Homo sapiens: one gene and its partners. The protein of the gene in region 3 interacts with the protein of the main gene of each other region in a pairwise test. Each region holds a gene or a part of one and is shown on either strand. Other genes may lie near its edges.

Region 1 (3,500 bases), on a different chromosome or scaffold from region 3:
CCACGAGGATGGCGATGCCATCACTGAGCTCAGACTAATGAAGAGAAAACATGAACCCAATATCTTAGGGGTTTCCTAGCCACCCCGACTGTGAATTGGTCATAATATTGTCTTTACAGGTTCTTAATTTAGGATCCATGCAACCCCTAAGGACTAACAGGGAGGCCTGTGGACCTTCTGATATTGCAAGCAAACCTTTGTGTATGAATCCATTTGTGCAGGGAAAGGTTTCACAGTTTTCATCAGTCTTAATATTAAGATCAACATGTTCAAGCTAAAGAATTCTAAGTATTGTTTATAAATAGCATGGAGACCAATATGTGACTTCAGGGACCCAAATGGAATTATTTGCCTAGTGGAACTAAGGGTCAATTTTACTTGGGAAATGTGTATAGTAAATACTCATTTATTCAACAAATACTTATTATGGGCATAAGAATATAGTGTATACAGACACAAACACTCACACATTAGACTAAGTCATTACAAACTTCACACTGAAACAAAGAACTAGTTCTAGGGGAGAAATGTCAACTTTTAAATTCCTTTGCTCTTTTGACTTAGGAAGAGATTCTATTGTTCCTATTTACCCCCTTCCCAAGACTGGCTGATGGAGCCACCAGGAGCACTGGAGGGGCACTTGGGAGACCCATGCGCTTGGTCCAACTCTACCCCCAACTTCTCTGTGATGTTGGGCAAAACATATATTCAATTTTGACCCTAATTTTCTCACATTTAGAAGGAGAAGATTGGACCAGAACAGTGATTATAAAATATTTTAAAGCTGCAGAACCTTCTTCAAGTGAAAGCTAATATGGAGGTGAAGCTGCTTTGGCCAAACAGGAGCAAGGGTGAGGGTCCCACCAGTCTGTTCTTCTGTCCATCTCACATGAGTCTCCAGGCTCTGAAGGAAGGAGTGTGAAACAGCTACCATCCAGTTCTATTATGCTATGCTTTGGGGGAGGTGGGCAGAAGAGAAGGGGGAATAAATTGTAACTGGATTCAAAAATAAACAAATGTTGTGGATAATTTGCAAAATCTGTTTCTTTAGGACTTAGTGGCCACTAGCTGTAATTGGTGTTGCCCAAGAGTTTTGCTTCCAAATTTGATTTCAGCACTGATCTTCACAGTAAAACACTGATCAAATGTGGAACTGATGATTCTAAATGAAAGAAACTGAGTAGTGGAACTGCTCAAGTTCTCGGTGCCTGGAGTGGCTGCACCTATTGGAGTACCCAACTCCACTTTTATCTGTACCAGATGGATAAATTCTGACCTGCTCATGAATGAAACCAGGTTGGCAGGTTGGTAATGTGTAGAGGGAGACACTGTCTTTCTGTCTGCTCAGAATTAGGGGGCCATGGCTGAGGCCCTGGGGTCAGGGGGAGACACCACACTCAGAGGGGTTTTTAGGCAACTGGCCCTGGTGACAGGAGGGCCAGCACAAGTCTGTGTTTTAAAGCTGTTCTGTAACTGCATGTCATCAGTGTAACCCTCCCTCACTAAGAGTGCGGGATAAAAGGCATTGAGGAGGGCCAAAGAAATCTTTCATGGGTGGATGAAGGAAAGTATTCTGTGACTAGGGTAAAAAGCTGTCCTTTTCTTATCTGTAGTCTAAACTTCACATAAGCTGGAGCAGTTTGAGCTTTTGCTGGGTCCCCTAACATTGCTCATCATCAGCAACCTCCAAAGGGCACAAAAACAGGGATCGTGCCGTTCTGCACCACTTCCTGAACCTGGGCACCCCTGCCCTGTCTCGCCTGGTCCCCCACCGTCCAGGGAATTTGGTGTGTGCCTCGTGCACAACTGTGCACATGTCTTCCTGCAGACCTTGTGTGCCCTCCAGTGTCCCATGGCCCTGCGTGGCTTGGGCTTCCTCCTCCACCGCAGGGAGCCACTCACACTGGCCCCAGGAAGGCCCTAAGGTGTGGGGATGGGGAGGGGTTGCGGGAGGGAGGGAGCAGCTCTGTTACCTTCTGTCTCTGGAACACATGAGTGAGGGGAGCCACCTGGCAGTCTTTGTGTGCACCAAACACCTTGCACAGAGAGCAGGTGGGTACTTCGCAGTTCAGACAGTAGATGTTGATGCGCTCCTCTTCATGTTCCTCGCACATGGGCTGGTCGGATTTCTTTTCTGGCCTGGGAGGAGGTAGGCAGATAAATGTCCATCAGCTCTCACTGGGGCAATCTCATCAAGGCAGAGCTGATGTTGCTCTGCCTTGCAAATTCCTTCTCTTCCCTGTATGCCCAGCAATTCTATTCCAGAAGACCCCCAGGGGCCCTTTCACATGCTCAGAGCCCACCAAATTCAGCTTCCCTGCAGGTGTAGCAGGGGAGTGCTGGCAAATCTCTAACAACCTGCTTGGGGTAGGGACAGAGACGTGGAGATCCTGATTTGTACCATTTGCCCATTTCCATGGTGTATTTCCACATGGCCAATTTTAAGTTATTTAAGGTTTCAGAATCTGGTAGTGAAATTCCTGAAAGTAGAATATCGAACCCTGGTGAGCCATCAGGAACGTGGTCCAGCACTGTGTCTACATGCTCACAAGTTTCTCAAGGGACACTTTCCCATTATGGACCAAGAACAGGAAATTGTTGATGAACTAAAAGTCGAGTTTGCACCAGCTTTTAGGAGTAGCTAGATCGCCCCCCTCCAGCCTCTGGCCCCAGGAAAGACCCTTTTCACCTGAAGAAATGAGGATAGGTGTGGCTCACATGGAACCAAAATCTTCTGATTATTAATTCAAGTACTGGTTGGATGCAAATGTGTATGAGACGCAAGTGTGGGTGTACCTCCTTATATAAACCCCAGGAATTCTGATATATCCTATCTAATGACTGAGGCTGCTAATAGTTTTCAGAAGTATTCAAAAAATTCAAATCCAAATCCAGAAGCTTTCTTCAAATTTCCAAACACATAGTTATTTAGCAACATCTTAGATTTGGGACTACATTTTGTTTTGTTGCTATACAGATCCAATTTTTAAAAACTACAGGTTTTTATGAGCCATGAAATCAATTTAGGGAGCTATGATCTGCATTGTTAAAATAAAAATAGAATGGAATAGCAAATACTGTGAATTACATGTAGTAAAAATAAGTATTGCTGTTCGAAACTTTTGTTTCAGGTGTACGTGTGTATATATGTGACTGAAACAAAAGTATATGTGTGTTTGTGTGTGTGTGTGTGTTTGTGTATGTGTGTATATACATATGTGTGTGTATATATATCCGTCCATATATGTAAGTGGTCACAATGTAAAATGCACTTCCTACTGTAAATCATGAATACAAGTGTTTGAAACCCATCTTTTTTGATGTGTGGTATCTTGTAGCTGCAGACCCAGAACTCAGAGAAAGGCAGAGAACGTGCTGATGTGCCTCTGTAAGACGCTAATGTTCCTTTATAAGTTGCTAGGTGGACGTCAATTACTTGAGATTAGGCTAAACATTGGGAGAAGCCCTGGGTCTTGTAAGAAAATTGCACGGACTTCCAG
Region 2 (3,500 bases), on a different chromosome or scaffold from region 3:
TATATACATAAAATAGAACATTATTTAGCCTTGAAAAGGAAGCAAATTCTCATACATGCTAAACATGGATGAACCTGGAAGACATGCCAAGTGAAATAAGCCACTCACAAAGCACAAATATTGTAAGATTCCACTCATACGAAGTACCTAGAGTAGACAAATTCATAGGTACAGAGGATACACTGGTGGTTGCCAGGGCCTGAGGGAAGGGAAAGTGGGGAGTTAGTGTTTAATGGGTAAGGAGCTTCAGCGAGGGAAAATTAAAATGTTCTAGAGATGGGTGCAGAACAATGTGGAAATATATTTAATGCCACAGAACTATATACTTTAAAATGGTTAAAATGATAAATGTTACGTATATTTTACCACAATAAAAACATTTATAAATGATTTCTCTTGGCCAGATATGTATAATAGCACAGGCTTGTCACTGAATGCAGTCAGATTACAGTTTGAAAAGACTTCCTAAAAGTCTTTTATCAAATAAAAAACAGAGGAAAAAGTAAATATGAAAGTAAGGAAGAGCTTGTTTAATCTGTGGTTTAAAAATCTTGTGTTTATTTTTTATTTTTTTTTTAATCCTAGATTACGTTTGGCTTCTTTTGATAGTAGTGGAAAACTAATATGTAGTAGAACAACTGGCTATCAAATACTTACACTTGAAAAGGATCAGGTATGTTCGATTATCTTCTGGTATGTCATCATAATATTTGTCTTTTGAATCCTCTTTTGAAAATTCTTAAGTAGAATTAACATTAAAGTGATGGCATTTTGACCTAAAAGTTGGTTTAAAAGTCTTTTGAAGGTAAAGATGAAAGTACCACATTCACTTATGCATAATTGACCCCATCCCAATGGAAGCATAATTAGGAGAAAAAAAGAAAACACTGTTTGAGGGGCAGGGAAACACTGATTATAAGGAAATAATTGTTTATCCTGAATATCAGCAGCACTAAAATTCATTCCTAAAATTTTAGGAATCTTAAGTGCTTTATCCATTGTGTACATAGTGCATTTATTTATACATTCACAGCAGGCATCTTAAAGACAATCCTGTATGTCTCCATAGCTCCGAATATCATAAGAGCATTATTCTCTAGCCCATTAGGTTCGTAAGATGGCAAACTCTGCAATGTTCCCCAGATTATCTCCAAAGCCATTTATTTATTCATACATCACACACATGGAGAAGTTTCAAAGTGTCATGATGAGAAAGTAGACCATTTTTAAAAGTAAAACTGAAAGCTGTTAAAATATTGAGGAACTTTATTTCTATTAAAAGTAATCATCATTCCAAAGGGCATAATGTTTTATTAAAGGATTCAAAGCCTGTTATAGTTTACATAAATTATGAGAAGTTAGTAGTTTTCCTCAGACTGAAGAGACTATCATAGAACATCCTTAGCATTGCAAGTAACCCCGGAAGTGATCATTGTAACCTCACATGCCCTATATGAGAACTTCTTTTAACAGCATTCTTACAGAGGGGGTCATCCACCCATTGTTGAAACTCTAACTGACCCCCATCTTACATGAAAGGTAATATGTAGGAATGTCCATTTCAAGGCAGGTATATAATGAGAAAGTCCAAATCTGCCTCCATCAGAACTCTCTGTTGGTCCTTCTTGTAACCTCTGCAGCTGAACAGACAATGACTATCTTTATCTTCTACCTGAAACTTCATGAAAAATACTGTCATGGCTCAAACCCAGCCAGAGACCTAAAAAAGCACCAGGCCAAGATAATAGTTGTATTCCCATGTTCCTTCAGCAAACATTTGTGTCCCCACCATGTGCTTGGTTCTCAGCTAGAAGTAGAAGAAATAAAGACAGGCTTGTGTTAATATAGCCTAGTGTAAGTAGCATGATAGAATTAGCTCAGAGTGTGCAACCTTGAGGGAGAAGACTCTGACCTGTAACTGAGCAGCTGCCGTGGTTGGGGGTGGTTATTGGAGGAGGAGGAGAAAGAAAGACAGCTCAGGGAAAACATCCTCTCCTGGAAAAGTGTTAAAGTGAATGCATACCTGAACCAAGCCTCAAATGGTGAGTAAGATTTCCGGAAGCAAGGGAATACATGGGTCATATTCAAGGAACTGAAAGATGGTTGGAAGAGTTCAGTATAACTAGAGCCAGGGCATGAGGGCTGTGGATGGAGTTTGGGAGATTTACTTTGGGAGTTGTCTCCGTGTTTTATATAGGTTATAGATGTTGTCGAAAAAATAGAAAATATGAGTCAGCTGAAACAACAATCATACATGTACCACTCAGATACATTGCTGAGTTTTTCCTTCACCTGTATCATTTTTGCAAAATTGGATCACAGTAGGTTAGCTATTTTGTAACCTGCTTTTTTTTTTAATGGTGAAAAACATATATATTTAGAATTTGCCAGCTGGATTCAACTTAGATGATCCCAATTTTTTGGCAGCCTCTAAAAGCAGCATGCTCAGGAGCCAGCTGAACATGGGCTTTCTTCTCTCCATCAGCCCTGATCACGGTGTTGATCTTGGCCACATTGGTGTCATAGAGCTCCTCCACAGCCTGTTTGATCTTATGCTTTTTGACCTCGACATCCACAATGAACACAAGTGCATTGTTGTCCTCTGTCTTCTTCATGGCCAAGTCAGTGGCCTGGGAGAACTTGTTGGTCGCATAGTGGTCAGGCCTGGGGGAGAGGCAAAATGGGGTCACCTGGCCTGGGCCCAGTAGAAGAAAGGCTTGGTCCTCTTTCAGAGCCCAAGGCCAGGTGAGCCTAGGTGCATCAGACAGTGAGGTAGTAATTGTAACCTTTTTTTTTTTTTTTCACTTTGTTGTACATAGCTTTTTTTGGTCAATAAATATATATTCACAGCATCATTTTTATGAACGGCATAATATTAGTTGTTTTGGCTATACCGTAACTTAGATAATTCCTCTTTATTGGATAAAGTTGTTTCTCATTTTTTTTCATTACTATAGGAAATATACATATATCTTTGTCCATTTTTATGATATTTTTAAAGCATAAATTCCAAGAAGTAGAATTCTTGTTGCATGGTGCATACAATTTTCTAATGGCCAAATTGCCCTCCAAAGCTACTGTCCAATTTATACTTCCCCCTGGCAGCAGTACAGGAGAGTATACCCAATATTGTATCTTATTCTTTTTCATCTCTATCCCAGCGTAGTAAATGTGAAAACAAATATTTGTTTTAATTTTCATTTCTTTTTGTTTGTTTGTTTTGAGACAGAGTCTTGCTCTGTCGCCCAGGCTGGAGTGCACTAATTTTTAGTAGAGACAGGATTTCACCATGTTAGCCAGGCTGGTCTTGAACTTCTGGCCTCAAGTAATCCACCTGCCTTGGCCTCCCAAAGTGCTGGGATTACAGGTGTGAGCCACCGCGCCTGGCCCTTAATTTTCAATTTTCATTTCTTTGGTTACTGTATTGTTGGGTTTTTTTATGCTTATTGAACGTATCATCTCATGTAAACTGACAGCTTATATTGTTCCTGTTTAATTTT
Region 3 (5,474 bases):
TTCCCCAAGGTTACACATGGGAGAATACTGGAGTCTGGATTTGGGCCCCAGGGAACTGATCTCGAAGACCTCATTCCTATCATTATATTTTACTATCCCTCTTCTATGCTGTCTTCAATACGGATTACGCTATTCTGTAGTAATTTCATGAGCAACTTGTCAGAGCTGTGGCCCTATGGTCAGCATATTTTTTACTTGTTAACATTACATATGCTAAATTTTTGCTGTGATAAGCAGTATCTTATTCGGGTAGGATATATAAATACCACATATTTATAAAATTCTCTAATTTTAACTTCTCTTCACCTTTTTAATGAGCTTAAGCTGAAGCTCTGAGTCTTTTCTTAAGTAATAAAACTGTCCTTTATTCTTTAGGGAAACATAAAATAAAATGTATACATGAATAGTTTTCCTTTGCAAGCACTTTGTTTTATCTGTTAGATCTCTCAGTGAAATCATAATCTTATGTTTTACAATAAGTACTTCCTGGAGACTGCCACAGATTTTAGCGTCAGAATTTCACTGCTGCTCTCAGTAGACAAAGATTGGATGTTTCCAGGGATCTTTAAGAAACGATAACTGGATGGGGGTGGAAGGAAGACACAAAAAGGGAGAAAAGAGGGAGAAGCATAAAGGCAGGAGAAGTCCAAAAACTGAATTTTTGAAACATTTTCTTAAGGATGAATTATTCCAAAAATATTGACAAAGCAGTCCTTTGAAATTAGGGTCCATCCTAGATCATTTATGGATCAACAAGAGTGAATCAAGAGGGACCTCAAGAGATCTCCTACTTGATACTTACAACCCAAAGTCTCATTAGGAAGCCCTAGAAGTGAGAGAGAGAGAGAAAAAAGGGAAAAGGCAAGCCCCAACAGAGCTCTGTATGGAGGGCAGAGGTACAGCAGGCTGAAAGAAGAAAAATTCTGCCTCATTGGGCTACAGATCCATTTCCTCTGGGCAGATCTGAGTCTATCTGAACAGAGCCATAGAATACCTTTGCATTAATCAGAAAAGGGCACCCATCCTCCAGGCAGTGAGCCCCCCAATGGACTCACTTGCTTGGACTACATAGTAGGGAGCTGGTTTTCAGACCCACCTTGCATGGCAAAACCTGCACAGCTACAGTTGGTAGCCCTGATCTTGCCTTCTCTCTCTCCAACAAGCATGTGGCACTAGAGGAGACAAGATTGAGAGTCAGAGCAGCTTCTACTACTGGCGCTGTCATCAGCTGTGAGACTCTGTATGAATCATTCAACCTCTGCCTCCATCTCTGAAAAATGATGGGGCTGGCTAGATGTCACCTAAGGCCTCCTTCCTCTTACCAATTCTCAATTGAAATCTGGTGATATCTAGTTGGTATATTCCAAACTATATCCTTAGGATACAGTGGCTGAGTGGAACCTTTAAAGTTTTCTTAAGATTGCTTTTTTTCCTCTCACATCTTACCTCTAACGTTACTTTTTCTCTTTTAATTTTAAGACCATACTCTGCTTTCAACCCCAAAGTGCTCAACATTTTTTAGAGCCATCAAAAGGTCACCTACCATGTACTGTCCTCAAACTACCCAAATATCCACCAACAAAATGGATAAAGAAACTGGGCATATTCATTCACAGAAATAACAGAAAAAAGACCTATTGCGACCTACATCAATTTGGATATATCACATGACATTATGCTGAGCTAAAGATGACCAAAAAATGTGTATTTTATTGCATTTAAATGCAGTCCAAAAACAGTTTAAAACTAACCATGACAATAAAAGTCAGCATAATGGTTATCCTGGGGGCAAAGATGATGACTGTAAAGAGAGGCTGGTAATGTTCTGCTTCTTGATTTGGATGCTAGTTGCCCAAATGTGATCATTTTGTGCTGTACACTCCTGATCTGTGCATTTGTCTGGTTGTGTATAATTCAGTAACAAGTTCAAAGAAATAAAGCTACAGGGACCAAAAAAAAAAGTCATCTACTGAAACTGTACACACAAGTGCTACTACCTGTGGGGAGAAAATTAATTACATTTTATTTAACCCAATCAGAGAGAAAAATCATCTGAAAAGCTAAGTGAGAAACTTCATTATATTTCCTAAAATATGCATCAAGAAATTGCTTAATTTTTTTAAATGATTTCCTCCCTCACATGAAACTGTGGCTATAAATTAATTCAAAATATTGTTTTTCCCTCTGTCTTCATGTATCAGTAAAACATTATTGCTCAAAGTTGTATAAAACATGTACAAAGATAATGTTGTTGGAAAACATCTGAAAACACCCCCAAGAGGATCCATTTGGAATACTGAGAGTCTAAATAGATATTTTTGGTCAGAATTATCCCAATTATCAGCACATTAATGCAATGACCTGGATAATGACCAAATCTCTACCTAGTTTCTTGATATATCAATTTAACTCTGCTAAGACAAGACCATACAGCTGGGGAAAGACATTCAAGAAAATGCCATGCTAGCCGGGCGCGGTGGCTCAAGCCTGTGATCTCAGCACTTTGGGAGGCCGAGGCGGGCAGATCACAAGGTCAGGAGTTTGAGATCAGCCTGGCCAACATGGTGAAACCTCATCTGTACTAAAAATACAAAAATTAGATGGGCGTGGTGGCAGGCACCTATAATCCCAGCTACTCGGGAGGCTGAGGCAGGAGAATCATTTGGACCCGGGAGGTGGAGGCTGCAGTGAGCTGAGATCAGGCCATTGCACTCCAGCCTGGGCGACAGGGCGAGACTCCGCCTCAGAAAAAAAAAAAAGAAAAGAAAATGCTATGCTACAGACCACTCCAAGGAAGCTCCAGGAAAACACTGCCTTCTCCTTGCGACTGTATTTGGTTCATCTGTGAATTTGTTTCAGCACATTTTTCTCTTCTTGACTTGAAGCAATACAATCAGCTGAGAGATCAATGATTTCTTTCCCCTTCTCAGTGTTCTGTAATTCATCTTTGATCAATATGGTATATATACTGCATGACTGCTCTGTTCCATTTGATATATACAAAAAGTGATCATACACAAACTTGCATCAGAAGTAATTACATCACTAAATCGCATAAAGTAATGAGAAGCACAGATTGCTTGTTTCTACCTAAAACTTCATAATAACTTCAGCCATTACTGCTGTAGAGCCCCCTCTGGTCCCACAGCATGGGAAGTAGACATTAGTAGTTTCCTCAAATGTTGGGGGACTAATTAAATATTTGTAGAATCATTAGCACTTAAACAAAAAATGTTTCCAGTCTTTGAAATGGGAAGTGGCTTTTGGAGTGTACGGGATACAGTTATAAGCATCCAGTCCCTGCACATTATTTAACACCAAACTAGTGATTCAACACAAAGACAGGCAAAATTTCCAGGATAACTATCAATTAGCAGTCCTATTTCAAGTTTGTATACAGATCTTATAGGGCACCTTGATTCTAATCATTCTGATCCTTTTTTCTCAGCTAAAAATACCTTATTCTTTAATCTACACTTCTAAACAGTAAGTTCTCTCTACTTCAGCCTTGTTTTAAATACTTATCCTTCTAACTTTTTCCTTGCAATTCAATGTCCAGTATTCCACTTCCTCGTTCCTCTCAAATTATCCCTTTAACTTGTTTCTACTTACTTTTAAAGGCCCCCAAAGCCTCTTCCTCAGGATAATGTGCAATTCAGAAAGCCCTCTCAACTACCCTCTGTATAAAAGTTTAACCACAGAGACCAACGATAACATTTTTCCTGTTTGGGTTTTGGGGAACATACATTATAACTGAAATTTCACTACTCATAAAACTCCTTCACTAAATCTTTCCCATTCCCCTCTCCTAACTCTCCATTGTTTTATACACAATCACGACATAAACACACTCCCAAAATGTGTAATGATATAATCATACAAAGACTTTCTAAAAATACATAATTTTAATGTGTGCAACAAACAGCCTTTATAACTCTAGTACTGGGAGTACACGTTTAAAAACATACTGACTTTTTAATAAACTGTGTTTGTTTTTCCTCGTTGGGGGTGGGGAGGAGGTAGGGGATCATCAAACAAGGACCAATTGCTATACCTGAATCCACAAACTGTGTTACAGTAGGATTCTATTGAGGATTGTAAACACACTTAAAACTTTTTTTTTTTTTTTTACTTTAAAAGAAGAAAGTTGAAATTGCAAAAATGAGAGCCAAAATTTCTATGCTTTACCCATAAGGATACACAAACTGAATACCTCCTGTTTTCCCACTTATGAAAGAAATATGCTTCATCTACCAAACTAGGGCATTTATGAGGTTTGTATTAATGAACAGAAAAATGCAAAAATGTACAAATGCAAAAAACTTTCTATCCTTTAGAAGACTTAATATTAAAATGATTTTAGGGAAAGCCCAAGAAATCTCATTCTCAACTCAGAAAACTACCTAAGGGATAATTTGTGAATGCCATCTGGGATCCAGGCAGTCCCATCCACAAAAGGGAAAACTTGTTGAGATCATCCAAATCTAAAATTCACATACATTTTTACATCTGGACTGAATTAATCTTTTCTTGGTACTGGCTTTCATGTAATAAAATAATTGTTTGCAGGTTTTATTTTTCTTAAAAAAAAAAAAACCCACAACTTTAGAAATCAAAATGTGCAACATCCAAATCGAAAACTACAAAGAATTCCTTTATCAAAAAAGTTAGTTGTGAGACAGGACTCATTTACACTCAACTCTGAACCTGACAGCTCAGTCAAAAACAATTATGTTTGAAACTTTCATTCCAAGCATCTGCCACAAAAGGCTACGCAGTCTATTACATCATAAGTTCAGAAAGCCAAAAGCTTTATAAGTATAGTTAAATGTGGAAACAAAATCCAAAAACTACAAAAAGACCCCCCCCCCAATTCAGCTAACCTAGTTCAGTAACAATTTTTTTTAAGAATTTGTAACTAAAAACCGCTACCTAGCACACTGGCATTTTGCTTTCAAAAGCAGCGTCTTCATCCAGGCCCATGCTGTTTTCAGGCGTTTTCCTGTACAGCCAGGAGCATCTTAAATCTCTAAGTTCAAATTATGTACTTAAAACTAGCAGCTTACCCTTGTTGCCCCCAAAAAGGAGATACTGGAAATAGGAAAGATTTCCTGCCCCTTAAAATGTCTTGAGTACTGCAAGAACTGCTGATTACTGTAGCCCATCAGTGTCAGATCTCAGAGATTCTTGCAAGCAACTCAAAGGGGGGAAAATTAGTTCATATTACAGTCAGTCTGCTTTCTGGAGAAGATGTCCTGCAGATAATTTGATATTAGATATCCCCTGGGGGACCCTTTTCATCTAATAATCCTACTAAATGTCCATTTTAATATGAAATATGAATCCAAAATGTTTACAAACATACTGGGAAAAGTATTCAAATGCCAGCTGTCTCATATTGTGAAGTATTTTCATTTTTAACATAAAACGTTTATTTCTCAAAGCCACACCTGAGAAAATGATTAGGTGCTGTG

What was found. Proteins that work in one complex are often made in the same cells at the same time.
Region 1: the proteins of FRMD6 (region 3) and TRIM55 interact in a two-hybrid assay, tested with the Homo sapiens proteins (one large-scale study listed by BioGRID and IntAct).
Region 2: the proteins of FRMD6 (region 3) and GMCL1 interact in a two-hybrid assay, tested with the Homo sapiens proteins (one large-scale study listed by BioGRID).

What each region holds. Positions count from the first base shown.
Region 1 is NC_000008.11:66,133,629-66,137,128, reverse strand, and holds part of TRIM55 (tripartite motif-containing protein 55), read right to left. Parts: intron 2,140-3,500; coding exon 1,974-2,139; intron 35-1,973; coding exon 1-34. UniProt on the Homo sapiens protein: E3 ubiquitin ligase that plays an important role in regulating cardiac development and contractility, muscle growth, metabolism, and fiber-type differentiation.
Region 2 is NC_000002.12:69,871,160-69,874,659, forward strand, and holds part of GMCL1 (germ cell-less protein-like 1), read left to right. Parts: intron 1-585; coding exon 586-673; intron 674-3,500. UniProt on the Homo sapiens protein: Possible function in spermatogenesis. Enhances the degradation of MDM2 and increases the amount of p53 probably by modulating the nucleocytoplasmic transport.
Region 3 is NC_000014.9:51,653,703-51,659,176, reverse strand, and holds part of FRMD6 (FERM domain-containing protein 6), read right to left. Parts: intron 1,173-5,474; exon of another isoform or gene 1,097-1,172; intron 1-1,096.